Regions from separate parts of the Homo sapiens genome. Here all the other regions are linked to region 3. The links come from fine-mapping of genetic effects on gene expression. A gene starts in region 3. Each other region holds a variant in brackets. All regions are shown on one strand. Distances are between the middles of the regions.

Region 1 (5,000 bases), 280 kb before region 3:
CTTAGGAAAGTAAGGGCACACAGTGAAGTTTAAAAAAAATATTCAAAGGCCCAGTAGCGTGTGGGCAGGAAGACTGGCTGCTGCTGGGTGCCCACAGGATCTAGGCCCTTGCACATTGCCTATAAAGATGACTTGGAATTCATCCTCTTTTTCAAAGAGGCAGAGGCTTCAACATTTTGGAGGGGTCACAGTGGTGGTCCTGGCTCCCGCCGTGTGGGAGAGAATACATTTTACCTACCCTTCAAAGAATGAGTTAGAGCCTGGGGTGCCAATGCTGGCCAAATACAAGTTCCTGAGACAGAGAAATCAGGCGGATGCTGAGGATCTCACCTCGAACCATTTGCCCAACAGTGGAGGGTTTCCACAGCCCTTCCCCTTCTCCATGCCCTGGATGTGCCCGGAGGTGCTGTAGGCAGTATTGGTTGCTTGGGCTGATGACTTATATGTCTTAAAGTCTCCAAGTCATTTTTTATGGGGACACATAAAAATTCCTGCTCAACAGCTGCCCTATGTTCATTGATTTGTTTGTTTGTTTGTTTCCCTAAGAGATGCCAGTTTGGCAACACCCAAGGCTGCCTCTCCCCTGATTCAGATCTTGGAGACTTTCATCCAAAACCATACAAAGCCCCAGGGCAGTTTTTTTTGTGTTTCCCTGCATTTAGTGTAATTAGGTGGATAAACTTGCAAAGCCACCTGATTTGAATAAAGTCCATTATTCCTCCTGAAGGAGCTCAGGATGGGATCAATACCAATGGGATCCAACTCTCCAGCCTCCTCTCCCACTGGAATACCTCAAGGAAGAATGTAAATGAATAGAAGGAACAGAGCAAAGGGGATGAGGATAGAATTTAAGAAGTCGTTGTGCTTGCTACGTTGGTGGCCAGATAGGGCCACTTTGGAACATCATGTAAACCACTTAATAACCTCCCACCACAGTATCTAGAGCAGGGCTGGGCCATGCAGTTTCTTCTCACATATTTTTACTTTAAGCAGAATACTTAATATCTATTGGCACGGCTCTGATGTTATTCATCAGACCTAACTCTGAAATCCTAGGACTCTAAATCATCAAGGCTCAGGTTCAAGTTCAACGGGGAGGAGAAAAAACAACAACAAAAAACCAGGAAGGCTGTCCAAGACATGTTTTCTGACTCTAGCCATAGAACTTGCTACTCTCTTCTCAAAGAAAACAAGCATTTTACACACTGTGAGGAGGGGGAGGGTGCTAATCATTACGCAGAAGTGTTTCAATGCACACACCACTCACATTTAGATTTACTTTCTTTTGCTGCATCTTTATACCTACGATAAACCTGGTTTAATATTCCATTAAAATTTTTTTTTAAACCACTGTAACTTTGTTTAATTTGGTTGCTGAAAAAAGTTCTACTTTGGTATAATCTTGTGTTTGTAACCGAGATCGCTTTTAAGAAGGCACATTCTTATCAGAGATAATTTGGAAAAGCTGCAGGTTGTTCACTGTTTGGTACTATAGTAATGATTATCTTGAACTTACAGTTTAGGGTCCTACTTGTTTCACTTAGCATGCATCCTAAGTATTGTCTATATTGTTACATAATCATGTGGTTTTCATGGTTGCATCATAGTCCATTACAAGGAAATGTCACAGCTTGGTTATCTATTCTTCTGTACTGATCATTTTCAGTTTTTCAATATTTATCAATAACTTTGAGCAGAAAATCTTCTAGATTTCCCTTACATTTTATATTATTTTCTTAAGATGGACTTTCCAAGGTCTCTTATAAAGACAATGAATGTATTTTAGGCCAAGGCTTCTCCAAGTGCAGTGTGTGCACAGATCGCTGGTGGATGTTGTGAAATACAGATTCTAACTCAGCAGGTGTGGGTTGGACCTGAGGATCTGCATTTGTCACAAATGCCTGCATGATGCCCAGACCGTGGCTCAGGGCTTTGGGCAGTCTCTTAAAGTTGCTGGTGTATTGGCATTGAGAGTATTTATAATACTCGTTTTGCCAAGTCACTGTGTGGGCTGGTTACCTAGGAGCTCCATCCCCTCAGAAGTACTTTCTAATCAAGAAGAAAGTTTGGATTAGACTGGTGTCCAGAGGGATGGGGAGCTGTAACACCTGCCTTCAATAAAAGCCTCTAAGCTTAGTTGTGGCCACCATTAGAATCATCTGGGGAGTACACACACACACACACACACACACACACACACACACACACTCTCTCTCTCTCTCTCTCTCTCTCTCTCTCTCTCTCTCTCTCTCTCTCTCTCTCAGCTCCCTCCAGACCACTACAAACAGAATGGCTGGCAATGGAACCTGGGTATCAGTATTTTTTAAAGCTTCCCAGGTATTAGAGGTGACTCTGTATAGCCAGGGTTGAGGACCATTGTTGTAAGCGCTTCCCAACTTAAATCTCACTGAGCTCCCAACTATGTTTTATACCTGCTTGGATGTAAAGCTTGGGGCTTATACATGCTACACTCAGACCTCTACACTTTCGACAATGGATTTAGCACAGCCATGAGTTGTCTTTGCAATTCAGAAAAAACAATAACCATTATTTCGGACAGAAAACAAGGTATTTGTCATCGCTGACTTCTCCATCAAACTCACTCTTTTGTAGCATTTGCTGGTCCCATCTTACTGAATGCCACCATTGTACACTCAGTCTCCCAAGCCAAAAACCTGGGGCTGATCCTAGCCCCTTTACTTTCCCATGCCCTTCAGATCTAAGCAGTTCTCACAGTCCTTTGCTCTGTATGTACTTGTTTCTTATAGAATGTATCACATTATATTAAAATTATCTCTTAGCATGGTATGTCCTTCAACTAGACCATGAGCCTCTTGACTCCAGAGATAGTATCTGATGCATCTTTTTATTCCCCACATCTAGTGCAGTGCCTGTCTAGCACAGAGTGGAGACTCCTGAAGTAACTATTGAATGAATGGATGAAATAAAATAGGTTTTGATCACATATAACCCTGGAAGATTATTCTTATGGTTGAAAGTTTCATAGCAGCATGGTGCTAGCAGGAGCACAGATTGCCTAGATAGTGCCTGGTGCCAACATGGCCTTGGCCTTGGGGGTGTGCAAGA[C/T]GGCAGACGGAATGCCCAGCACGCACTGAGTCCCTGCCACTCACCACCTGCTAGAGTAACACCTGCTGTTTCTGTTTGGCAGTTGCCTTTTCGGGCCTTGGCTTCACGACGTTCTACTTGGCGGGCAAGCTGCACTGCTTCACCGAGAGTGGGCGGGGAAAGAGCTGGCGGCTCTGTGCTGCCATCCTGCCCTTGTACTGCGCCATGATGATTGCCCTGTCCCGCATGTGCGACTACAAGCATCACTGGCAAGGTGAGTCCCTGCCCAGGGCCTGACTAGTCCTCACTGTGGTTGCCCCTCTCCTCCAGGGATGGGTGTAGAAATGCACCAATTGTGGGGAGCTAAGTGCCCATTGTCCAAAACCAGAGGAGGCTGAAATGACAGAGCGGATAAAATTTTGAAGCAAATATGCTGGTTCAAGTGAGGTCTGGCCTTCCTGGGGAAAGAATTGGAGCTCTTCTTCCTCCTTCATGCTCCAGGAGACTGCTTGAGTCCTGCCAGAATGTCAGGCCCTTTGGTTTAGTGTCACCCTTGGCCTGAGACCCAAATGTGATTTTCCTGCTGGATCACTTGCCTCAGTCCTCAGAGTTGGTGCCAAGTGGTTTTTGGCTTCCTTTGCTTATCAAATCCAGCCTACAAGGACGTATTTGTCACCATGGATGCTCTTCCGAAAGGTATATCTAGCCAGGGATTCATTCCAGTAATGCTCCAAGCAGCAGCTGCAAGCCTGGGGTGAGGTTTGCCTATATATATACATATATCAGTCCTGGGGTATTTGTTAAAAATCAAAATAACACAAAACAAGGGAGGGGCTTGTTCCTGAAATATAACTAAACCATGCCATGTCCTTCTGCAGACAAACTGCAGCTCACAGTCTGTCTGAAAGACAACCACCACCTGCCAGAGCACACAGAGAGCTGAGACGGAGGTGATGTCCATGGGAGGTGTGGCCTCCAGGAAGCATGGGGTCTAGGGAAGGGTTTCCCAAGGGCAATCCTTGGATCACCTTGATCAAGCTGCCCTGAGCTAGAAATTGGACTCTCTAGGGGTGCATCTGGAGCAGTGGCCTAGAATCTTCCTGGATAATAAGCAAGCCTGTCATTGCTGATGAAGTCTAAGAAACACTGGTAAAGAGCTCCACCATATGTGTCAATTTTAACCAAACAAAGGAAAGAAAGTGTGCCTGAATCCAGCTTCTTTGAATGAATGGGCTTCCATGATAGGTCTGTGACCCAAACCTCCTCTCCCTTTCTTGTTTTCCGACTGTTGCTGGGCATTGTTCACCTCCTTCCTCTCTCTGTCTTTGCAGCCAGCTGCCTTGCAGGACTGCCCTCTTCCTACCTTTTCCGGGGGTTTGTTGCAGTGGTAATGAGGCAATGGATGGGGACAGGGTTGAGGGGAACTCCTAGCTGAGAGCCCCTCCTTCCTCATCTTCTCTGGAGACCTTGTGCTCCTTCTAGCACTACACAGCTTCTCCTGTTCCTTCCTGGTCTCATCCCTACCCCGTATCCTCCTGGAGCTCATGCTCTGGGTGTCCTGTGACCCCAGCAGGAGCTTTGGGCTGGAGGATGAAGGGTATAGGGAAAGAGATGCTGACATGGTTTGGACAGGTGGATGCAGCAAGCATCAAGTGCTACTAAGGTCTGAGGCCCTCCTGATGGGGGAGGTCAGAAGAGGGTCACAGGTCTGAACCTGCCCTTGTTCTGTTTTTATCAATGACTTGGATGAAATTCTGGATGATAAGAAGCCGCATCATGAGATGGAAGGATGGACAGAGTCACTGGGCCAACAAAAACAGAGGCACAGCCCCCCATTGGAACTGGGAATATGTTCCCGCAGAATTGTTTCCCACCTATGTGAGTTAGGGCATTTCCCCATGAAGAATATTACGGGCCAAATGGCCTTTTATGGA
Region 2 (11,197 bases), 39 kb after region 3:
GTATTGGCACAAGAATAGAAAGTGAGTCAACCTAATAAAGAGCTCAGGAACAGACCCATGAATATTTGGGGACTTAATATACAGTAAAGTAGCACAAATCAAAGAGGATGGACAGACTGTGTAGTAGACGGTGTTGGGAAAACTGTCTCACTTTATGGAGAAAAATACTTGATCTCTACTTAATACCGTATAGAGAAGTGAGTGTCACAGGACTAAAGACCTAAATGTAAAAATGTAAAGCTATAAAATTGAATATAACAAAATACAAAATATTGCTGTGACCTAGAGGCAGGAGGAGACATCAGAAGCTCAAACCAAAAGGCAAAAAAAAAAAAGAAACAATGCATTTAATTAATCAAGATTAATGCTTTTTGTTTGATGAAGATGTCAAAGTTAAATACAGAAGACATTTTGGGAAAACAAATTTTCCAGTGTCTAAATTTAACTAGAAACTCCTGCAAGTCAACAGTGAAAAAAAGCGGGAACCCTAGTGAGAAAATGAACAAAGTCTGTGAAGAGCTAATGAGAGGCAGAGAAACCTAAAAGGCCAACAAGCCATATAAAGGAATGTTCAAACTCATCAGTTTTCAGAGATGTTCAAACCATGATATGGATCTACCGTTTAGACTAACAAAAACTGGACAGCCATATAGTGTTAAGTACGGGTGGAACATAGGGTATGGGAATCCTTGTGCATTGCTGGTAGGAATGTAGACCAATGCAGCCATTCTGTAAAGCACGCTGGCAGCACTTGGGCAAACACAGACATCTTCTGTGTCCGCTGAGCTCTTGGTCGTAAATGAACTTTTGCAAGGATATTGACTGGTGTGTTTTGTCATGATGTGAGTTTGGAGACCATCTGTGTGTTTTTACTGAGAGAGGAGACAGATTAACAATTGGCTGATGCACCCATGGAGTATTACGTAGCATGCAGAAACAGGAGGAAGAGGACTTAAATACAGTGGAAAGAGTAAGAAACAGGATGAAGTATATATATATATATACACACACACACACACACACACACATATAAACACAATACTATTTAGGTAAATTAGATAATAACTACATGTTAAGAACTTATACATATGCGAGGATATTGGACTAAAAGGCTTTACAATAGGTGGAATATAAAAGAATATATAAATAAAACAAGTGATTTTGGAGGAATCTATGGATGATAAAGGACCCTGGTTCGAGAACTGTGATTGTCTTATCGTGTGCACATAAGAGATGGGGGAGGAGACGAGGAATAGGCAATACTATCATTGAATTCATTATTTTCATTTTGTAAGTATTTTATAAAAACATCAAAAGGTCAGACCTTTTGGAAGTTTGCCATAAAAGCTCCAATTAAAATGCATTCATTTAGCCTTTCTCTAAGTAGGTAAAATCTAAAGAACAAATGTGGATTCATGTGTAGTAATAATAAATGATACTGGGCAGTGGTGTGTGTGCCCAGCTCTTCTGGACGATTCTTTGACAGAAGGAAACCTAGCACTTCTAGGTTTGTCTGCATTTGCTTTACAGGAGTGGTCACCATCTCACAACTTGAAGAGCCTGAGAAAGAAGCAACTTGCAACTCGAGAGGCCATGGCCCGCCAGACCGTAGTCTCAGACACAGAGCTGAGTATTGTTGAATCATCTGTGATCAGGTACAGTACAGTGTTTCTTGACACTGTCATTTGTGCCATTAGCATCATGTCTGGGAAGTTGACAAGTATCATCGGAAGGTGTCTATGGTAGCAAGTTGGACTCTGCTTTTGAACATACTTAGTTTCATCTTTCAGTACATACCCAGATTACTAAAAAGATAATTTTATCATTTTTAGTATTGTACTATACTGTTTGTTATAACTAATAACATATGCAGTAATATTCACCCATCAGCATCTAGTAGTAAATGTGCTCATTCCGAGTGCCCTTCTACTCCATACACTTCAGCTTCTGAAATTCAAATGAACATAGCATAGACATACAGATAGATCATATTATCATTTATACACACCAAAGAAAATGTGTTGGGAATCCTAAATTTGTGTATCATCCCCATCCATACCAATCTTACAGATAAAAGGCTTCAGAGATAATGTTGGGTCACTGTACAGCCTCCCTTCTGTTGAGCACAGTTCTATAGCCAAAATCTCTATGAATTTTATTTTTCTTGTGTTAAGTTTAGATCACCATTTCTCTCTGTGCAGGGTAAACTTCCTCTGATGTTGTGGCTGTTAAGGAGTGATTCATGTTTACCCATAATTAGCTGGGCAAATATTAGTTTCAGACTTTTAAAAAAATAGTTTTGGACCTCCTCTTAATGCGTCTGTACTTTGGGCAAGTTAATTAATTATGAGTATCACTCTAGGGGAAAAAAAAACATCTTTATCATATGTTTCACTATCCCAAAGCTTGCTGCAGGAGGCAGAAAGTAAATCTGAACTTAGTCAGAACATCTCTGCCCGGGAACATTTTGTATTTACCGATATTGATGGCCAAGTGTATCATCTCACTGTTGAAGGAAACTCAGTAAAAGACAGTGCTCGGATTCCACCAGATGTGAGTACAACCTTGATTAAATCTTCATCAAGAAGATTTTGTTTTGTTGGTTCCATATCCAGTGAAGGCATAGTTAAGTTGGAAACTTCAGAAAAGCCTAATGTAAATAAACTTTATTTAAGGAGATATTATCGATTAAACTTGTTCCATACTGCTAGAGAATAACGCTGTAACTATTTTGATTAAATGTTTACTGTGTGCTACTCATTTTTATCCCTGTAATAATCCATGAGGAGTTATCTCCATTTTACCCATAACAAAACTGTGGGAGAATAAGTAACTTTCCCAAAGTTATCCAGCTTACTCATATGGCAGAGCAGTGTTTTAAACTCAGGCCTGTCTGACTTCAGTATCTGTCTTCTTTCCATTTCAGGCATTACCCTGAAGGATTTGACTTACAATCTAGTATTATTTTTGGATAATAGTAATCAGGTTGTAAGTGTAATAGTATTATTAACATTTACTAACTTACATATATTCTTATGGCCTTGTGGAATCTGTAACTAAAGTTTTGCCATTAATCATTTGTGTCAGCATGCATCTCATAGATAGTTTTTAATAGATGGATCATGAAAATGTTTATGTTAATTAATGCAGGCTATTATAATGGTTAAATGAAGGCATGAGGGGATTTTTTAAAATAGGTATATTTATTTTAAATTGCTATCTAAAAATGGAATGCTCTAGTAGAATGCCAACCCCCATAATTTTATAGGTGGCTTTGGGGTCTCATAAAGTTACAATCTAGATGTTGGCTGTGGCTACAGTCTTTTGAAGTGTAATGGGACAGAAGGATCTATTTCCAAGTTGGCTGCCTCACAGGCTATTGCACATTAATGCTGGCTGTTGACGAGGGACCTTAGTTCTTCATGTCGATCTTTCCATAAGGCTGCTTGAGTGTCCTCACGACATGACAACTGGCCTCCCCTAGAGTAAGTGATCTGATAAAGCAAGAAGGAAGTTGCAGAGTCTATTATGACCTGGTTTCAGAAGTCTCTTCAAAGGCAACTTCTTAATTAAACATTCTATTTTATGGCTAGGAAAGTAGATATCTTAAAATGTTGCTTCATATTATATACAGAATTTCATTTCTTTAATATTTTTTTTTATTAATGGACTTTATTATAATATTGATTTTTAAATCCAGTTTTTGTTTTGTTTCTTGACTATTACCAGAGTTTTTACGGTATTCAGTGTGTGTGCTAGTCCACTAATGGTCAATTATTCAAACCACTAGAGTTTTCTTACTTTTTACCATGGATACCATTTGAATTTTTATGTTGTACAATAAATGCAAAAATAAAATTTCTTTTAATAAATAGAGAAGTAATTGAGCAGTAATATTATTTAATAGCTAACATGTATTGACTATTTACTGCATGGCAGGCATTGCTTTAAGGCCTTTGCCTTTATAAATTTATTAATACTAGCAACAACTCAAGTTTCATGAACTTACCCTACTTTATGGACAATAAATCCAAGACAGAAAGGTTAAGTAAACATGCCTCAAATCACATACCAGTTTCAAGCTGGGATTCAAGCCCAGGCAGTGTGACTGCAGAGCCCAGGCTGCTGAGCCCTCCATGATACCACCTCTGAGCATCTATTAGAACTGCAAGTTCCTTTCTTCCTCCAAGTTAGATTGACTACAGCAGCATTTCATTCTTATGTTGTGCTTCTATATGTAACTTCTGAGCAAAGCTTTCTGTGAATTTAAACTGCATATGCCTTTAGTAAACAGCATCTCTTCACCTTCATGATTCCACAATGTTCCAAAACGTGTCAGTGAAGCTCTGGATCCTTTTTTCAATAGAAAAATCACGGCACAATTAGTTATAAAAGAGCTTTAAGTTTCCCTTGGAATGGATTTAGTTATCCTTTTGCAGTGAGAGATAAGTTTGAGTTGGCTCTCTGGAAAACCTTCCCTTTACTTCTCTGTTTTTCTTACTTTAATTTCCCCCTTTTTTTTTTGAGGTATTTGTTCCTCAAAAGACATCCCCTCTCTTTAAATCTAGTTCCAGTAACTACTTAATGTCTATGAAGTTGAAATCTCCTATTTCTTCATAGTTGAAATTGATAGGCAATGTAGCTCTTTGTTAGTGTCTAAAGTCTGTTTTAGGATTTGATGACTAAAAGCATACTAAAGCACAGCCCTTTAAATTAAGTTTTATTAAAATATTTATTATAATGTCTTATACAGCATAGTGAAATTTATATTTGTTTGTTGCTGTTGTTTTCTAGGGAAGTATGGGTAGTATTACCTGCATCGCTTGGAAAGGTGATACATTAGTGCTTGGAGATATGGATGGAAATTTAAATTTCTGGGACTTGAAAGGCAGAGTATCCAGGTATAAGCCAAGAATGAAATCTTGTTATTTCATTAAAAAAAAGAAATGAAATC[T/TTTTTGTTTTG]TTTTGTTTTGTTTTGTTGAGATGGTGTCTTGCTCTGTCGCCCAGGCTGGAGTGCAGTGGTGCAATCTCGGCTCACTGCAAGCTCTGACTCCCGGGTTCATGCCATTCTCCTGCCTCAGCCACCCGAGTAGCTGGGACTACAGGCACCCACCACCACGCCCGGCTAATTTTTTTGTATTTTTTTAGTAGAGACGGGATTTCACCATGTTAGCCAGGATGGTCTCGATCTCCTGACCTCGTGATCCGCCCACCTCGGCCTCCCAAAGTGCTGGGATTACAGGCAGGAGCCAGCACACCCGGCCAAAAAATGACATCTTGATATGGTTCCATTAGAGGCTTGTGACTTGGCAAGAAGGATCAGTAAACTCGTGGAGGTGTAGCTTGGACCCTTGGGTCCCTTCACCTAAACTTGGGAGGATGGGCCTTGAGCCAAGCATTCTTAGGAGATAGTTATCTGCAAGTGGCCCCTGCAGAAGTCTTAGCTGACCTTAAAGGGCAGGCCCTTTCTGTCAGATGTGGCCCCCAGTCCCAGCAAGTAAAGGGTTCTCCCATCATCAGACCTGTTAGAAATGGAAATAGTGAGAGATGTTAGACATAGCTTCTGGTGACCAGATCTCACTCTACATTGTATTGATGTTTTTGTTTCTTTGTCTTCAGAGGAATACCCACACACCGAAGTTGGGTGAGGAAGATTCGTTTTGCTCCTGGTAAAGGAAATCAAAAATTAATAGCAATGTACAATGATGGAGCTGAAGTGTGGGATACTAAAGAGGTAGGCCCTCTCCATGAGGATAAAACGTAAATAAATTGTTAGCCATAGGAACTGTGCTTTGTTAAAAAACTTCTTTCTGATTTAGAAATGAAAAGTACTTAATGAGTTCGTCAAGTTTCCCATAACAAATTATTTTCTTTACTTTACAGTATTTGTGTTCTAAAGGTAACAACTCAAGATTTATTTATTTATTTATTTATTTATTTTTATTTTTTATTTTGATATGGAGTTTCACTCTTGTCGCCCAGGCTGGAGTGCAATGGCGCGATCTCGACTTATTGCAGCCTCCACCTCCTGGGTTCAAGTGACTCTCCTGCCTCAGCCTCCCTAGTAGCTGGGATTATAGGCATGTGCCACCACGCCCGGCTAATGTTTTGTATTTTTAGTAGAGACAGGGTTTCGCCATGTTGGGCAGGCTGGTCTCAAACTCCTGACCTGAGGTGATCTGCCCGCCTCAGCCTCCTAAAGTCCTGGGATTATAGGCGTCAGCCACCGCGCCCAGCCGATTTATTTATTTTTTAATATTATCACTGTCTCTGAGACCTTTAAAATGCTGCCTATTTGTGGAAGATAGATTGCCAGAGGCTGTTCAGTTCTAAACTTGAACTGGGCCTTTGCCACAGACTGTCTTCCTTGACCATTTAATCTAGAATAATAAAGATCTTCCTTTTCTGTCTGGAAGTGATGCCCAAATTCACTCTTGAAGGTTCAGATGGTGAGCAGTTTAAGAAGTGGCAGAAATGTGACCTTTCGTATATTGGATGTGGACTGGTGTACGTCAGATAAAGTGATCTTGGCCTCAGATGATGGGTGCATCAGAGTCCTAGAGATGTCTATGAAGTCTGCGTGCTTTAGAATGGATGAACAAGAGTTAACCGGTATGGAATCCTAATGATAGGGGGCTTTGAAACCTGTCTTTACTTTGCCACAAGCTCTTGTATTTTGGGGAGAGAGCTGCTGCTTCTGTTTCATTTCAGTCTTATTTTCTTAGAATCTGAGTTTAAGAAAATATATTAACTTGAAGCTTGAGTGTTTTTACTGCTGAGATGCTGCAATCTTTGTAACTATAGATGTCAATCATTCTCAATTCAGGTTTTTTAAGTGCCCCTTTTGACTCTTTTCTTTGGTTTGTTAACAAGATAAAAGATGTTTATGTTTATAAAAATGGCTTACTCAGAATTTAGGCAAACTCATCAGAGGACATAAATCTAGTGATAAGGCTGCTGGCTTTTTAATAATGGCCTTATGTCTTTTGCAACCATATATCATTGAAAAGTCACTTTAGAAAGTGTTCTGAGTATTATGAATTTTGATGCCAATCTGTGACTAGTAAAATGACCAGTCAAGCAAATTAGCAGATTGCAGTATCTTGCTCTGTTTTGTATGGTTGTTTTGACATTGCTTTTTACCAGAATAAAAAGCATTTTAGTAGAATATACTCCATATATGACTTCTAAAAAAAAAAAGAATGGGACAATTGTGAATGCATCCATTTATCAGTTTAAAAGGCAGCTTTTGGCTGATGCAATACAGTGTTCATCCTTGGAAGATACTTGATCCTACTTGGAGTGGAGGAGGGAACTTCTTGCCTGAGTATTCTCCCAGCAAAACTTTGGTGCACACTCTAGGCTGATATGTAGAAAATTTCATGAGACTTTTCTGAACCTTTGTAGAGTCAATATTTGGCACTTCAGACACAGTAAGGTTTTAAAAACCTGGTTTTTCACTTTGTGTTCATGCTTGAGGCACTACTGAGTTGCTGCTAATGTTAGCAGGGCTGCCTTTAACTTAGTTAGGTATGCTTTGGTTTTTGTCACTGCCCACCCCTGCCCACTGCATTTGGGCACCACCACTTCTTACTATGTAACTGACTGCCATCAGGTGAAGCCAGAATTCAAGACCTACATTCCCATGTCTGTCCTTGTGTCGTTTGCCAGCTCTGGGGAAGCACCAGGATGGCCTCCTAGGAAAGGGCAAGCATTGGTATTCATTTTAAACCTAAAGGTATTGAGGACATTGAAGGAACTTCAAGGGTGGTTTTTGAAAAAATTGGTTACTAATTCTAGATAAAGAAGTGTGGAACTGCTATCTAAATGTTTGAAGAGCTTTTCCTTCACTTTTAATATAAAATTTGAATCTAAAAAGCTCCAAAGTCAAGGTGTAGCTTGTTCTTAAATTAAACTGACTACAGAAATGGAGTCCATTGTATTAACCCATGTTCAATACCATACTTGAACATCTGGCCTGTGGCCAGATTTTAGATCACATGTTTCTTTTAAAATTTTTCTGATTTTTTTTTATATTCTTTTCAATCTCTAATGTTACAGCCTCAGCCAGAAAGAGAAAACTAAATAGCAATTGGGAAAGGTCATGCAATTGTGTATTCATTCCACAAATTGAACTTCAAATTCAGAACAACCCTTAATAAATGTTAAAGAATGAAAACTATGGTAGTGTAAATGTGGAGTGAGGAAAAAGACATCTGTGTGTTCACCTCCAGATTCATGGCCGATTTGGTCTTGAGGAAAAAAAGTTTGAGGTAGTATATTTCTATTCTGAGGAATTAGAAGTATATTTGGGGCTTACTGACATGGGATAAAAATAAAATAGGTCCTAACATTGGTGTTTCCTATGTTTTCTTCAATTCTCCTTGAAAACAAGTAGAGAACGTAAAATATTGATTCACATCTGTACATTTTCTTAGAGCAGCTTAGATAGGCCACTTCTTCCTCCAATAAAGAGGGGGCAGTCAGACAAATTAGAAGATTAGAATTCCTGTTTTTGAGTTGGAGAACCTTTCTTATCGGCTGCCTAATATGTCAGGGACACAAAGAGCCATCAAAATAAATCTTAATAGTCTTTTTAGCAGCATCTAAAAGGAATGCAAGAATATGAGACTGTTTAATAGCATTCTGGTATCATGCAGTTTCCACACCCTTTAAATAGTATTGACTTGATATCAGGGACTGTTCAACCTAATTTCCTCCCCAGTGTTTTTTTTTTTTAATTTTATTATTATTATACTTTAAGTTTTAGGGTACATGTGCACAACGTGCAGGTTTGTTACATATGTATACATGTGCCATGTTGGTGTGCTGCACCCATTAACTCATCATTTAGCATTAGGTATATCTCCTAATGCTATCCCTCCCCCCTCCCTCCACCCCACAACAGTCCCAGGTGTGTGATGTTCCCCTTCCTGTGTCCATGTGTTCTCATTGTTCAATTCCCATCTGTGAGTGAGAACATGCGGTGTTTGGTTTTTTGTCCTTTTGATAGTTTGCTGAGAATGATGATTTCCAGCTTCATCCATGTCCCTACAAATGACATGAACTCATCATTCTTTATGGCTGCATAGTATTCCATGGTGTATATGTGCCACATTTTCTTAATCCAGTCTATGATTGTTGGACATTTAGGTTGGTTCCAAGTCTTTGCTATTGTGAATAGTGCCGTAATAAACATACATGTGCATGTGTCTTTATAGTAGCATGATTTATAATCCTTTGGGTATATACCCAGTAATGGGATGGCTGGGTCAAATGGTATTTCTAGTTCTAGATCCCTGAGGAATCGCCACACTGACTTCCACAATGGTTGAACTAGTTTACAGTCCCACCAACAGTGTAAAAGTGTTCCTATTTCTCCACATCCTCTCCAGCACCTGTTGTTTCCTGACTTTTTAATGATTGCCATTCTAACTGGTGTGAGATGGTATCTCACTGTGGTTTTGAGTTGCATTTCTCTGATGGCCAGTGATGATGAGCATTTTTTCATGTGTTTTTTGGCTGCATAAATGTCTTCTTTTGAGAAGTGTCTGTTCATATCCTTCGCCCACTTTTTGATGGGGTTGTTTGTTTTTTTCTTGTAAATTTGTTTGAGTTCATTGTAGATTCTGGATATTAGCCCTTCGTCAGATGAGTAGGTTGCAAAATTTTTCTCCCATTCTGTAGGTTGCCTGTTCACTCTGATGGTAGTTTCTTTTGCTGTGCAGAAGCTCTTTAGTTTAATTAGATCCCATTTGTCAATTTTGGCTTTTGTTGCCATTGCTTTTGGTGTTTTAGACATGAAGTCCTTGCCCATGCCTATGTCCTGAATGGTATTGCCTAGGTTTTCTTCTAGGGTTTTTATGGTTTTAGGTCTAACATGTAAGTCTTTAATCCATCTTGAATGAATTTTTGTATAAGGTGTAAGGAAGGGATCCAGTTTCAGCTTTCTACATATGGCTAGCCAGTTTTCCCCTCCCCAGTGTTAAAGGCCACTGCTAAGCACATTTTTCCTAAGTAAGCATATATAGAAAGAAGCTTTCTGAAATCAGATTTCTGCACAAACCTTTCCTCTTCATCTGCCACAGCTTTCCACAGTCATTTTCGGTAATCTTGGGGCATTCAGAAATGTCTCACAATGACTTGCCGATGTGGGGAGGTCTGGGGATGCTAAACAACCTGGAACGATCTGGCGCAATGAAGAATTGTCCTGCCCCAAACGCCAGTAGTGTTCCTTAGCTCTCTTTTTCACCGTTCATTGAATCACACTGAACAAAATCACAAAATATGGTCCTTTCCTTCCCAGACTTCCAGCTCACCTTAATGTTGCCATTTCCAAGTGGTGGAGGAATAACTTTTTTCTACTGATTTTCTTCTTGGCTCTTTGCTTACTGATTTTCTGCATTCCTGTCATGTAGGTAGCTAAAAACCTGGGTGTTATGATTCATACCTCACATAACTTTAGCCCAGATGGAGCAGAATCCGTGACAAACAGCAATGATGCTAACTGCTTTTGCATTCTAATTGTGTAATTTTCAGAGGTGAATGAGCTCTTGCATGTGAGTTTCTCCAGATGTGAGATGATCTCCTATTACTTTTTCATGGCTGATCTTTACCTTTCAGAAGAAAGATTTCAATTCATTTGAGGGAGGGAAGTAGTTAAGGGTCACTTTCAGTTTGTTCATGCTCATTGGGATGCTGTCAACAATATTTTGCTTTTGGAGAAATAACATATTTGTTTTAAAAAATAAGGTATTTCCCTCCTTTTATTCAGACTTGGTAAATGTTGTCTTGCTTGCATGATGTAAACACTCGATGCTGCCTTCTACGTGGATTCTCTTGTATCTTTTCGTTTGTTCATTGATTAAGAAATTACCACACAGCATGAGAACTTTCCCTGAACCATTCCAAGATTATTATGTATAGTTAATTTTTTTCCCTGACATTTACCATTTCCAAACATACTGTGATATAATACCAACAACTATCTACATGAATCTACCTAAAACATATACATATGCTATCTAAAATATGAATGGGGCTGACTTGAGAATTATATAGATTGTCGTCTATGAAGGATGAATAGAAAGAAAGTTAAGTAAGCTAGCCACCTGCATCCCTTTCAGTGTTAAGTGTTCAGTGCTTCTGTAGGTAGTTAGATAAGCCTCATTTTTCCAAGATGCAATCCTTCCTTTATAGCCCAGA
Region 3 (11,197 bases):
TGGGAAGGCAGCCTTCCCTTGGTGTTTAATCATTGCAGGGACGCCTCTCTGATTACATACCCACGTTTCAAGGGTGTCAGACAATGCAGGGACGCCTGCCTTGGTCCTTCACCCTTAGCGGCAAGTCCCGCTTTCCTGGGGCAGGGGCAAGTACCCCTCAACCCCTTCTCCTTCACCCTTAGCGGCAAGTCCCGCTTTCCTAGGGGGCAAGAACCCCCCAATTGCTTATTTCTGCACCCCAACCTCTTATCTCTGCGCCCCAATCCCTTATTTCCGCACCCTGACCTCTTATTTCTGTGCCCCAACCCCTTCTCTGCTTTTCTGGAGGGCAAGAACTCCCCACCCCTTCTCCGTGTCTCTACTCTTTTTTCTGGGCTTGCCTCCTTCACTATGGGTAAGCTTCCACCTTCCATTCCTCCTTCTTGTCCCTTAGCCTGTGTTCTCAAAAACTTAAAACCTCTTCAACTCACACCTGACCTAAAACCTAAATGCTTTATTTTCTTCTACAATGCCGCTTGACCCCAATACAAACTCGACAGTAGTTCCAAATAGCCGGAAAATGGCACTTTCAATTTTTCCATCCTACAAGATCTAAATAATTCTTGTCGTAAAATGGGCAAATGGTCTGAGGTGCCTGACGTCCAGGCATTCTTTTACACATCAGTCCCTTCCTAGTCTCTGTGCCCAGTGCAACTCGTCCCAAATCTTCCTTCTTTCCCTCCAGCCTGTCCCCTCAGTCCCAACCCCAAGCGTCGCTGAGTCTTTCTAATCCTCCTTTTCTACAGACCCATCTGACCTCTCCCCTCCTCGCCAGCCCAAGCTAGGTCCCAATTCTTCCTCAGCCTCCACTCCTCCACCCTGTAATCTTTTTATCGCCTCCCCTCCTCACACCTGGTCCGGCTTACAGTTTCATTCTGTGACTAGCCCTCCCCCACCTGCCCAGCAATTTATTCTTAAAAACGTGGCTGGAGCTAAAGGCATAGTCAAGGTTAATGCTCCTTTTTCTTTATCCCAAATCAGACAGCGTTTAGGCTTTTTCATCAAATATAAAAACCCAGCCCAGTTCATGGCTCGTTCAGCAGCAACCCTGAGACGCTTTACAGCCCTAGACCCTAAAAGGTCAAAAGGCCATCTTATTCTCAATATACATTTTATTACCCAATCTGCTCCCGACATTAAATAAAACTCCAAAAATTAAATTCCGGCCCTCAAACCCCACAACAGGATTTAATTAACCTCGGCTTCAAGGTGTACAATAATAGAAAAAAGTTGCAATTCCTTGCCTCCACTGTGAGACAAACCCCAGCCGCATCTCCAGCACACAGAACTTCCAAACGCCTGAACTGCAGTGGCCAGGCATTCCTCCAGAACCTCCTCCCCCAGGAGCTTGCTACAAGTGCCAGAAATCTGACCACCAGGCCAAGGAATGCCTGCAGCCCAGGATTCCTCCTAAGCCGTGTCCCATCTGTGCGGGACCCCACTGGAAATTGGACTGTTCAACTCACCTGGCAGCCACTCCCAGAGCCCCTGGAACTCTGGCCCAAGGCTCTCTGACTGACTCCTTCTCGGCTTAGCGGCTGAAGACTGATGCTGCCCGATCGCCTCGGAAGCCCCGTAGACCATCACGGACGCCGAGGTTTGGGTAACTCTCACAGTGGAAGGTAAGTCCGTCCCCTTCTTAATCAATATGGAGGCTACCCACTCCACATTACCTTCTATTCAAGGGCCTGTTTCCCTTGCCTCCATAACTGTTGGGGGTATTGACAGCCAGGCTTCTAAACCTCTTAAAACTCCCCAACTCTGGTGCCAACTTAGACAATACTCCTTTAAGCACTCCTTTTTAGTTATCCCCACCTGCCCAGTTCCCTTATTAGGCTGAGACACTTTAACTAAATTATCTGCTTCCCTGACTATTCCTGGACTACAGCTACATCTCATTGCCGCCCTTCTTCCCAATCCAAAGCCTCCTTTGCGTCCTCCTCTTATATCCCCCCACCTTAACCCACAAGTATAAGATACCTCTACTCCCTCCTTGGCGACCGATCATGCACCCCTTTCCATCTCATTAAAACCTAATCACCCTTACCCCGCTCAATGTCAAGATCCCATCGCACAGCACGCTTTAAAAGGATTAAAGCCTGTTATCACTCGCCTGCTACAGCATGGTCTTTCAAAGCCTATAAACTCTCCTTACCATTCCCCCATTTTACCTGTCCTAAAACCAGACAAGACTTACAGGTTAGTTCAGGATCTGCGCCTTATCAACCAAATTGTTTTGCCTATCCACCCCATGGTGCCAAACCCATATACTCTCCTATCCTCAATACCTCCCTCTACTACCCGTTATTCTGTTCTAGATCTCAAACATGCTTTCTTTACTATTCCTTTGCACCCGTCATCCCAGCCTCTCTTTGCTTTCACTTAGACTGACCCTGACACCCATTAGGCTCAGCAAATTACCTGGGCTGTACTGCCACAAGGCTTCACAGACAGCCCCCATTACTTCAGTCAAGCCCAAATTTCATCCTCATCTGTTACCTATCTCGGCATAATTCTCATAAAAACACACGTGCTTTCCCTGCTGATCGTGTCCGATTAATCTCCCAAACCTCAATCCCTTACAAAACAACAACTCCTTTCCTTCCTAGGCATGGTTAGTGCGGTCAGAATTCTTACACAACAGCCAGGACCGCACCCTGTAGCCTTTCTGTCCAAACAACTTGACCTTACTGTTTTAGCCTAGCCCTCATGTCTGCGTGCAGCGGCTGCCGCTGCTTTAATACTTTTAGAGGCCCTAAAAATCACAAACTATGCTCAACTCACTCTCTACATTTCTCATAACTTCCAAAATCTATTTTCTTCCTCATACCTGACACATATACTTTCTGCTCCCCGGCTCCTTCAGCTGTACTCACTCTTTAAGTCCCACAATTACCATTGTTCCTGGCCCGGACTTCAATCTGGCCTCCCACATTATTCCTGATACCGCACCTGACCCCCATGACTGTATCTCTCTGATCTACCTGATATTCACCCCATTTCCCCATATTTCCTTCTTTACTGTTCCTCACCCTGATCACGCTTGATTTATTGATGGCAGTTCCACCAGGCCTAATCGCCACATACCAGCAAAGGCAGGCTATGCTATAGTACAAGCCACTAGCCCGCCTCTCAGAACCTCTCATTTCCTTTCCATCGTGGAAATCTGTCCTCAAGGAAATAACTTCTCAGTGTTCCATCTGCTATTCTACTACTCCTCAAGGATTATTCAGGCCCCCTCCCTTCCCTACACATCAAGCTCGAGGATTTGCCCCCACCCAGGACTGGCAAATTAGCTTTACTCAACATGCCCGAGTCAGGAAACTAAAATACCTCTTAGTCCAAATAGACACTTCCACTGAATAAGTAAAGGCCTTTCCTACAGCGTCTGAGAAGGCCACCACAGTCATTTCTTTCCTTCTGTCAGACATAATTCCTCAGTTTAGCCTTCCACCTCTATACAGTCTGATAACAGACCAGCCTTTATTAGTCAAATCAGCCAAGCAGTTTTTCAGGCTCTTAGTAGGTGTCAGTGAAACCTTTATATCCCTTACAGGCCTCCGTCTTCAAGAAAAGTAGAACGGACTAAAGGTCTTTTAAAAAGACAGCTCACCAAGCTCAGCCACCAACTTAAAAAGGACTGGACAATACTTTTACCACTTTCGCTTCTCAGAATTCAGGCCTGTCCTCAGAATGCTACAAGGTACATCCCATTTAAGCTCCTGTATAGACGCTCCTTTTTATTAGGCCCCAGTCTCATTTGACACCAGACCAACTTAGACTGTGCCCCAAAAAACTTGTCATCCCTATCTTTTGTAGTCATACTCCTATTCACCATTCTCAACTACTCATACATGCCCTGCTCTTGTTTACACTGCCGGTTTACACTGTTTCTCCAAGCCATCACAGCTGATATCTCCTGGTGCTATCCCCAAACTGCCACTCTAAACTCTTGAAGTAAATAAATAATCTTTGCTGGCAGGACTATGCTGAATCTCCTTAGGCACTCTCTAATCAGATGTCCTATGTCCTCCCAATTCTTAGACCTTTTATACCTGTTTTTCTCCTTCTCTTATTCCATTTAGTTTCTCAATTCATCCAAAACCGTATCCAGGCCGTCACCAATCATTCTATACGACAAATGTTTCTTCTTACATCCCCACAATATCACCCCTTACCACAAGACCTCCCTTCAGCTTAATCTCTCCCACTGTAGGTTCCCACGCCACCCCTAATCCCACTTGAAGCAGCCCTGAGAAACATCACCCATTCTCTCTCCATACCACCCCCCAAAAATTTTCGCCGCCTCAACACTTCAACACTATTTTGTTTTGTCTTATTAATATAAGAAGGCAGGAATGTCACGCCTCTGAGCCCAGGCCAGGCCATCGCATCCCGTGACTTGCATGTATACATCCAGATGGCCTAAAGTAACTGAAGATCCACAAAAGAAGTACAAACAGCCTTAACTGATGACATTCAACCACTGTGATTTGTTCCTGCCCCACCCTAACTGATCAATGTACTTTGTAATCTCCCCCACCCTTAAGAAGGTTCTTTGTAATTCTCCCCACCCTTGAGAATGTACTTTGTGAGATCCACCCCTGCCCACCAGAGAACAACCCCCTTTGACTAATTTTCCATTACCTTCCCAAATCCTATAAAACAGCCCCACCCCTATCTCCCTTCGCTGACTCTTTTCGGACTTAGCCCACCTGCACCCATGTGAAATAAACAGCTTTATTGCTCACATAAAGCCTGTTTGGTGGTCTCTTCACACGGACGCGCATGAAACTAACAATGTATTGGGGAGAGAAACACACATCTGCAAATATCATTGCTGAAAAGAAATCATTGCATTAAGTGCTATAGTTAAAGCGTATAAACCCAACACTGAACACAAAGGAGGGAAGGACTGGGTCTGACCTGGAGAGCAGCAGAGGAGAAAGTGCGAAATGAAAGGTACCCAGCAACAGACAAAGGGTCACACTTGGCCCCAGACATAGTGCTTCTTCCTCAAGTGCGAAGGGAGTATTGCAAACACCAGATATGCAGTGTTATCTGTATTTGGAAATTGTTTATATTCAGGCCATTCACTTCATTCAGTCTGGCAATTTCATTCAATTAATCTCATTCATTTCTTAATTAATCTCATTCATTATTCTCTGTAAACTCCACGAGAGCGGAGACTTTGTGTCTTCTTCATCGGTAGATCCCCCATGCCTACTGGCACTAGTAGTTGCCCTAAATTCACTTATCAAAGGCAGCAAGAATAACTGGGACTCTTCTCTCTTGCTTTTCACGATTTCCAGCAGGGCACAAAGGCCTACAGTCCCCACCTGAAAAAAACAGACTTGACTGGAGGCAGCGCCTCTTCTTCCAAATACAGCCCCAGCTGACGCAGATTAGCACAACCGCCTAAGCGGCGGAACTCTGGAGAGTGCGGAACCTAGGATCCTAGGAAACTGAAGGCAACGGAACCTGGGGGCGATGGAATCCGGGAGCGGTGGAACCCGGAGCCTGTAGAACTTGAATCTAGAGGAACCTGACAGCGGCGCCGAGGGGGCCACCCGGACTCTGTTTGGAACGGAAGCACAGTGTCCGCCGCTTCCTGGTTGCGGGTCAGCGCCCAGGTCCTGGGCTGGCCGCCGGGATGTTGCCCTACACAGTGAACTTCAAGGTGTCGGCGCGCACCCTCACGGGGGCCCTCAACGCCCACAACAAGGCGGCGGTGGACTGGTGAGGACGCCGAGCTTCCAGGTCGCCAGGATCGGCCAGGAATGTGTGAGGGGGAAGGGGGAAGGACAAGAGGTTTCACCCCCTGGTTAGTTTGGCCTCGCTAAGGCAGGGAGCCGCCCTCACGCAATGAGCTTGCTTTCAGTTGGTGGATTTTTGTTGTTACAAAAGTGATAATAGCCCCGTGTGGGAAATTCCCCCATGCAAATACATTTCCCCTCTTTCTCGCGTATTTCTCTGCTGTTTTCTCTGCACCTCGCCCTTTTGCCGTTCCATTCCTCTCTCTTTTCCTCTCCTCCAGCTTCCAGGCTTCTCTCTCTCCACCATTAATTCCCTGTGCACTTTCTCTTTCCCATCCTGTCTTTTCTTTTTCGTTGTCTTGTATTCCTGTTGTCTTTCAACAATGTGCCAGACCCTGTGCTAGGCGCCTGTTCTTTCACCTGTCCTTTTCACCTCTTTTCGGGCTCCTCCTGTGTAGAACATTCCTGCCTTCAACAGGTCGTCTTTATTACTCTCTCCTTTCACTATAAATTACTACTGCAGCTCTGAAAACTACTCATTAGACAAATGTAAAGCAAAATTCTGTGGCTGTGGGATGTTGTTAGGAGGACTGAAACGTCTTGTGCAGTGTTTGTCGTTTTATTTAGTTGGAAGGACTAGGATTAGTCGCAGTATCCCCAGGCACATTGTGGATACTAAGGATTAGAAATCGGATAAGCGAAAGACGTATGCCTACAAGAACAGTCAGAGGGCACAAGTTCCTTTTTATGTCCTCGGGTCTCTATTTTCATATCTTTTAGAACTTTTTTTATCCGAATGAAAAGTGAATTTCAACAAGCATTTTAAGCTTAGCCAGATCTTTTATTTAAGTGGGATAATGATAAATACTGGCCTTTGGGTTTAAATGATTTTATTAATGGTGGTACATATGAATTAGACTTATCATTTATTTAGGCTTGGCAAGAAAGAAGTCGTCCTGCTTTGTTCTGTACTTAAACTTTAACATTACTGTTTTGCTAGGGGCTGGCAAGGTTTAATTGCTTATGGATGTCATTCACTTGTGGTAGTGATTGATTCCATTACTGCCCAAACTCTTCAAGTTTTAGAAAAGCATAAAGCTGATGTTGTAAAGGTAAGTAAAATCCCACTTTGACGCTAACATGTTGTCTAGTCTAAAGTTTAATACTGTGTATCACTAAGCTCTCATTAAGTCTTACGTGTAAGTGTTGAATAGCTTTTAAATATAACAACCTATTTGGGGTAGCCTAGAATTTTCATATATATGACTTAATGTCAATACAGGGTGAGTTATTAAATGCTAGTTGTTAGATCATTTTAAGGCAGATGAAAGTTCTACCATTTACAAGACCACTCAGTCATTCCTTAGTTTTGAGCACTTACCATATGCTATGGATATGGAGATGAAAGCCCTCAGATAATTCTCCATCTTATAAGGAAGACTCACAGCGTGATAGTGTGATAAGTGAGACTTGCGTAACACGCTGTGAGAAAACAGAGGAGCTGCATATTGCCTGGTTGTGAGGAGAGTCACAGAAGTCTACAGTTTCAAGACTAGTAGACAGTAGTTAGCCAAGTAAAAAATTGACAAGGAGCATTGCAGGGAAAAGCAAGAATATACACAGAAGTAAGTAGCGTGCCATAAAGATGGCTAAAGATGGGACACTTGTAGGAGTGATGAAATAAGAGGCAGCCAGAGAGATTCAGCTGTCTGTCCTGAAGTTTTGTAAGATTACGAAGGAGTTTGGATTTTTTTTTTTTTTAGACAGAATCTCACTCTGTCGCCCAGGCTGGAGTGCAGTGGCATGATCTCGGCTCACTGTAAGCTCCACATCCTGGGTTCACGCCATTCTCCTGCCTCAGCCTCCTGAGTAGCTGGGACTACAGGCACCCACCACCATGCCCAGCTAATTTTTTGTATTTTTAGTAGAGACCGGGTTTCACCATGTTAGCCAGGATGGTCTCGAGCTCCTGACCTCGTGATCCACCCGCCTTGGCCTCCCAAAGTGCTGGGATTACAGGTGTGAGTCACCGCGCCCAGCAGGAATTTGGATTTTTGAGTAGGAGATTGATGTGACCATATTCGCGTCTTAGAAAAACTCTGGCAGCAGTGGAGGATCTGCTGAAGAAATGCAAGACTGGAGGCAGTAAGATCATTTAGGAGATTTCTGCAGTAATTTTGGTGGGAAATTCTAAGGGCCTAAAATAAAGCTGGGGCATGGAGAAGTCATGTTTAAGAGCAGCAAAGAGGTAAACCTGATAGCCTTTATAGTGATCAGTATAAAGGAGAGTAAGAGAATAGAGTGACTCCAAGGTTTCTTTTGGTGTAATTGAATGACAGTGTTTCCAGTTATCAGAGGTAAGCATCTGTGAAGTCAGTGAATTTTTAAGTTTTCAACATGCAAAATCTGAGATGCCTGTAATATATTGCATTATAGTGATCCGGGCTTTAGGAGATAGGTCAGGATTAGAGATAGAGATTTGGAGTCTTTTTCTTTTTTAAATAATAGCTTTATTGAGATACTCATACCATAAAATGTACTGACTTAAAATGCACAATTCTGTGGCTTTTAGTATATCCACAGTTAATGCAGCCACAATTACAATGAACTTTTTTACCTCAAAAAGAAACCCTATATCCACTAGCAGTCATATTCCATTTCCCCCATTTCCCTCATCCTTTGGCAACCACTGACCTACTTTCTGTGTCTGTAGACTGGCCCATTCTGGGGATTTTATATAAATTGAATCATATAATTTGTGGTCTTTTGTGCATGACTTCTTTCACTTAGGATAATGTTTTCATGGTTCATCTGCGTTGTAGCATATATCAATACTCTGTTACTGATGAATAATATTCCACTGTAAGGATGTATCACATTTATTTTATTGATGGACATTTGGATATTTTGTACTTTTTGCCTGTTACGAATAATGCTGCTTTGCACATTCATGTGCAAGTTTTGTGTGAACCTGTGTTTTCATTTCCCTTGAGTATGTTTCTAGGGGTGGAATTACTGACTCATATGGTAACTCTGTTTAACTTTTTGAGGAACTGCTGGACTGTTTTCCAAATTAACATTCTCATTAGTAGTGTATGAGGAGTCTAATTTGTCCAAATCCTCACCAACGCTTGCTGTTCTCTGTTCTTTTGATTATAACCATCCTAATGGGTATGAATTGATTCTCATTGTGGCTTTGGTTTGCATTTCCCTGATGGCTAAAGGTGTGGAGTATCTTTTCATGTGCTTATTGGCCATTTGTATATCTTCTTTGGAGAAATGTCTATGCAGGTCCTTTGCCCATTTTAAAATTGTATTATTTATCTTTTTATAATTGAGTCGTAAGATTTCTTTGTATACAGTAGTCCTCCCTTATCCAGAAGGGAAATGTTCCAAGACCCCAGTGGAAGCCTGAAACCCTGGATAGTACTGAACCCTATATATATTGTGCTTTTTCTCATACATACTTACTTATGATAAAGTTTATAAACCAAACCCTGTATATACTGTTTTGTCTCATACATACTTACCTATGATCAAGTTTATAAATTAGGCATAATAAGAGATTAACAACAATAACTAATAATAATAAAGGAGAACAATTATAACAATACATCAGCATTACTACTCTTGCACTTTGGGGGCATTATAAAGTAAAATAAGGGTTACTTGAACATAGCACTGAGATATCACAACAGTTGATCTGATAATCAGTATGGCTACTGAGGGCAGGTGGTGTATACAGCATGGATGTTCTGGACAAAGGGATGATTTATGATTAAGGCAGGATGGAACAGGACAGTGGGAGATTTCATCATGCTATTCAGAAAAGCGCATAATTTATGAATTGTTTATTTTTAGACTTTTTTGTGTCATATGTTTGGATTGATACATGATTTGCAAATATTTTCTCTCAATTTGTGGGTTGTCTTTTTACTTTCTTGGTGGTGTCTTTTGAAGAACAAAACTTTTTCATTTTGATGTAGTCCAATTTATTATTTTGTATTGTTGTTGCTTGTACTTTTTGTGCCATATCCAAGAAACCATTGCTTTCTCCAATATCAAGAAGATATATACCTTTGTTTTTTTCTTAGAATTTTAGAGCTTTAGCTTTTAATCCATTTTGAGTTAATTTTTATATATGATGTGAAATAGGGAAAAATACTATTAATTTTTGTTTATTGATCATATCCTGTAATCTAGCTAACTTCACTTAGTAGATCTATTTAATAGTAATTTTGGGTAAATTTTTTTTAAGTAGACAGTCATGTCACTGCAAGTGACTGCAGTTTAATGTTTTCATTGATAATCTGTGTGTCTTCTATTTTTCTTGCCATGTTGCATTGGCTAGGACCTCTACTACAATGAATGGGAGAGTAGTGAGAGGATACTCTTGTCCTGTTCCTGAGCTTAGGGGGAAAGTATTCAGTCTTTCATCAAGTCTGATGTAAGGTATAGGGTGTTTTGGGAAAAATATATTTACCTTCTCTTTCCCTCTCTGTTTCCTTTCCCCTACACTGCCCCTTGGCATTTCTGGAGCTTTTATTTCTTTATGTAGGTCCAAGTTTCAGTCTGGTATTATATTCCCATCGACTGAAGAATTTACTGTAAGTTCTTAAAGTGCCTGTCTAATATTGGTTGATTCTCTTAGCTTTTATTTCTCTGAGAAAGTATTTCACCTTTGTTTTCGAAAGATAATTTTCAAAGGATATAGAATTCTGGGTTTATAATTTTTTTTTCTAGTAGTACTTTACAAATATCATTCCATTGGCCAGGCATGGTGGCTCACACCTGTAATCCCAACACTCTGGGAGGCCGAGGTGGATGGATCACCTGGGGTCAGGAGTTTGAGACTAGCCTGGCCAACAAGGCAAAACCTCATCTCTACTAAAAATACAAAAATTAGCCAGGCGTGGTGGTACACACCTGTAATCCCAGCTACTTGGGAGGCTGAGGCAGGAGAACAGCTTAAACCTGGGAGGTGGAGGTTGCAGTGAGCTGAGATAGTGCCACTGCACTCCAGCCTCGGCAACAGAATAAGACTCTGTCTCCAAAAAAAAAAAAAAAAAAAAATCCCTCCACTATCTTCAAGCTTACATAGTTTCTGATGAAAAATTTTTGTTTTTGTTTCTCTGCATTATATCTTTTTTCCTCCGATTATCTTCAAGATTTCCTTAACCTTGGTTTTCAATAGTTTGATTATTAAAATATATATATATATGGCTTGGAGTTTACCTAAATGGAATTCAACATATACATATACAAATATATACACATATACAAACATATATATACACATAGAGACAGTCAATTCTTGTTATTTGTGGTAGCTATATTCTGTAAAGTTGTTGTATACACTGAATTAGTGAATACTGAAACTTTGTTTGCTCCTAGGGGTTAGG

Which allele goes with the higher level. Alleles are on the strand shown, and positions count from the first base shown. SD is a standard deviation of normalised expression in the study named.
For the expression in cerebellum of the gene that starts at base 5,451 in region 3, allele C in region 1 goes with a lower level than allele T (large effect, 0.85 SD a copy in GTEx).
For the expression in caudate of the gene that starts at base 5,451 in region 3, allele TTTTTGTTTTG in region 2 goes with a lower level than allele T (moderate effect, 0.62 SD a copy in GTEx).

What was found.
Region 1: its variant is fine-mapped to the expression of WDR11-DT in cerebellum (GTEx, PIP 0.91).
Region 2: its variant is fine-mapped to the expression of WDR11-DT in caudate (GTEx, PIP above 0.99). The same link has a PIP of 0.9 or more in hippocampus, nucleus accumbens and prefrontal cortex.

What each region holds. Positions count from the first base shown.
Region 1 is chr10:120,571,962-120,576,961 of GRCh38, forward strand. It overlaps PLPP4 (phospholipid phosphatase 4), which reads left to right. Exons shown (of 7, transcript NM_001030059.3): 6 at 3,170-3,340. Among named protein-coding and RNA genes, the nearest start is that of LINC01561, 23 kb to the right of the region's middle. RefSeq lists an enhancer at 3,166-3,665. The variant C/T (reference allele first, on the strand shown) is at 3,088.
Region 2 is chr10:120,884,284-120,895,480 of GRCh38, forward strand. It overlaps WDR11 (WD repeat domain 11), which reads left to right. Exons shown (of 29, transcript NM_018117.12): 15 at 1,531-1,655; 16 at 2,406-2,553; 17 at 4,795-4,901; 18 at 5,612-5,726; 19 at 6,433-6,604. Among named protein-coding and RNA genes, the nearest start is that of WDR11, 39 kb to the left of the region's middle. The variant T/TTTTTGTTTTG (reference allele first, on the strand shown) is at 4,955.
Region 3 is chr10:120,845,729-120,856,925 of GRCh38, forward strand. It overlaps WDR11-DT (WDR11 divergent transcript), which reads right to left and starts at 5,451. Exons shown (of 3, transcript NR_033850.1): 1 at 4,966-5,451. It overlaps WDR11 (WD repeat domain 11), which reads left to right and starts at 5,634. Exons shown (of 29, transcript NM_018117.12): 1 at 5,634-5,778; 2 at 6,796-6,907. The coding sequence starts at 5,693. RefSeq lists enhancers at 5,276-5,820, 5,299-5,418, 5,579-6,048, 5,821-6,364, 6,059-6,118.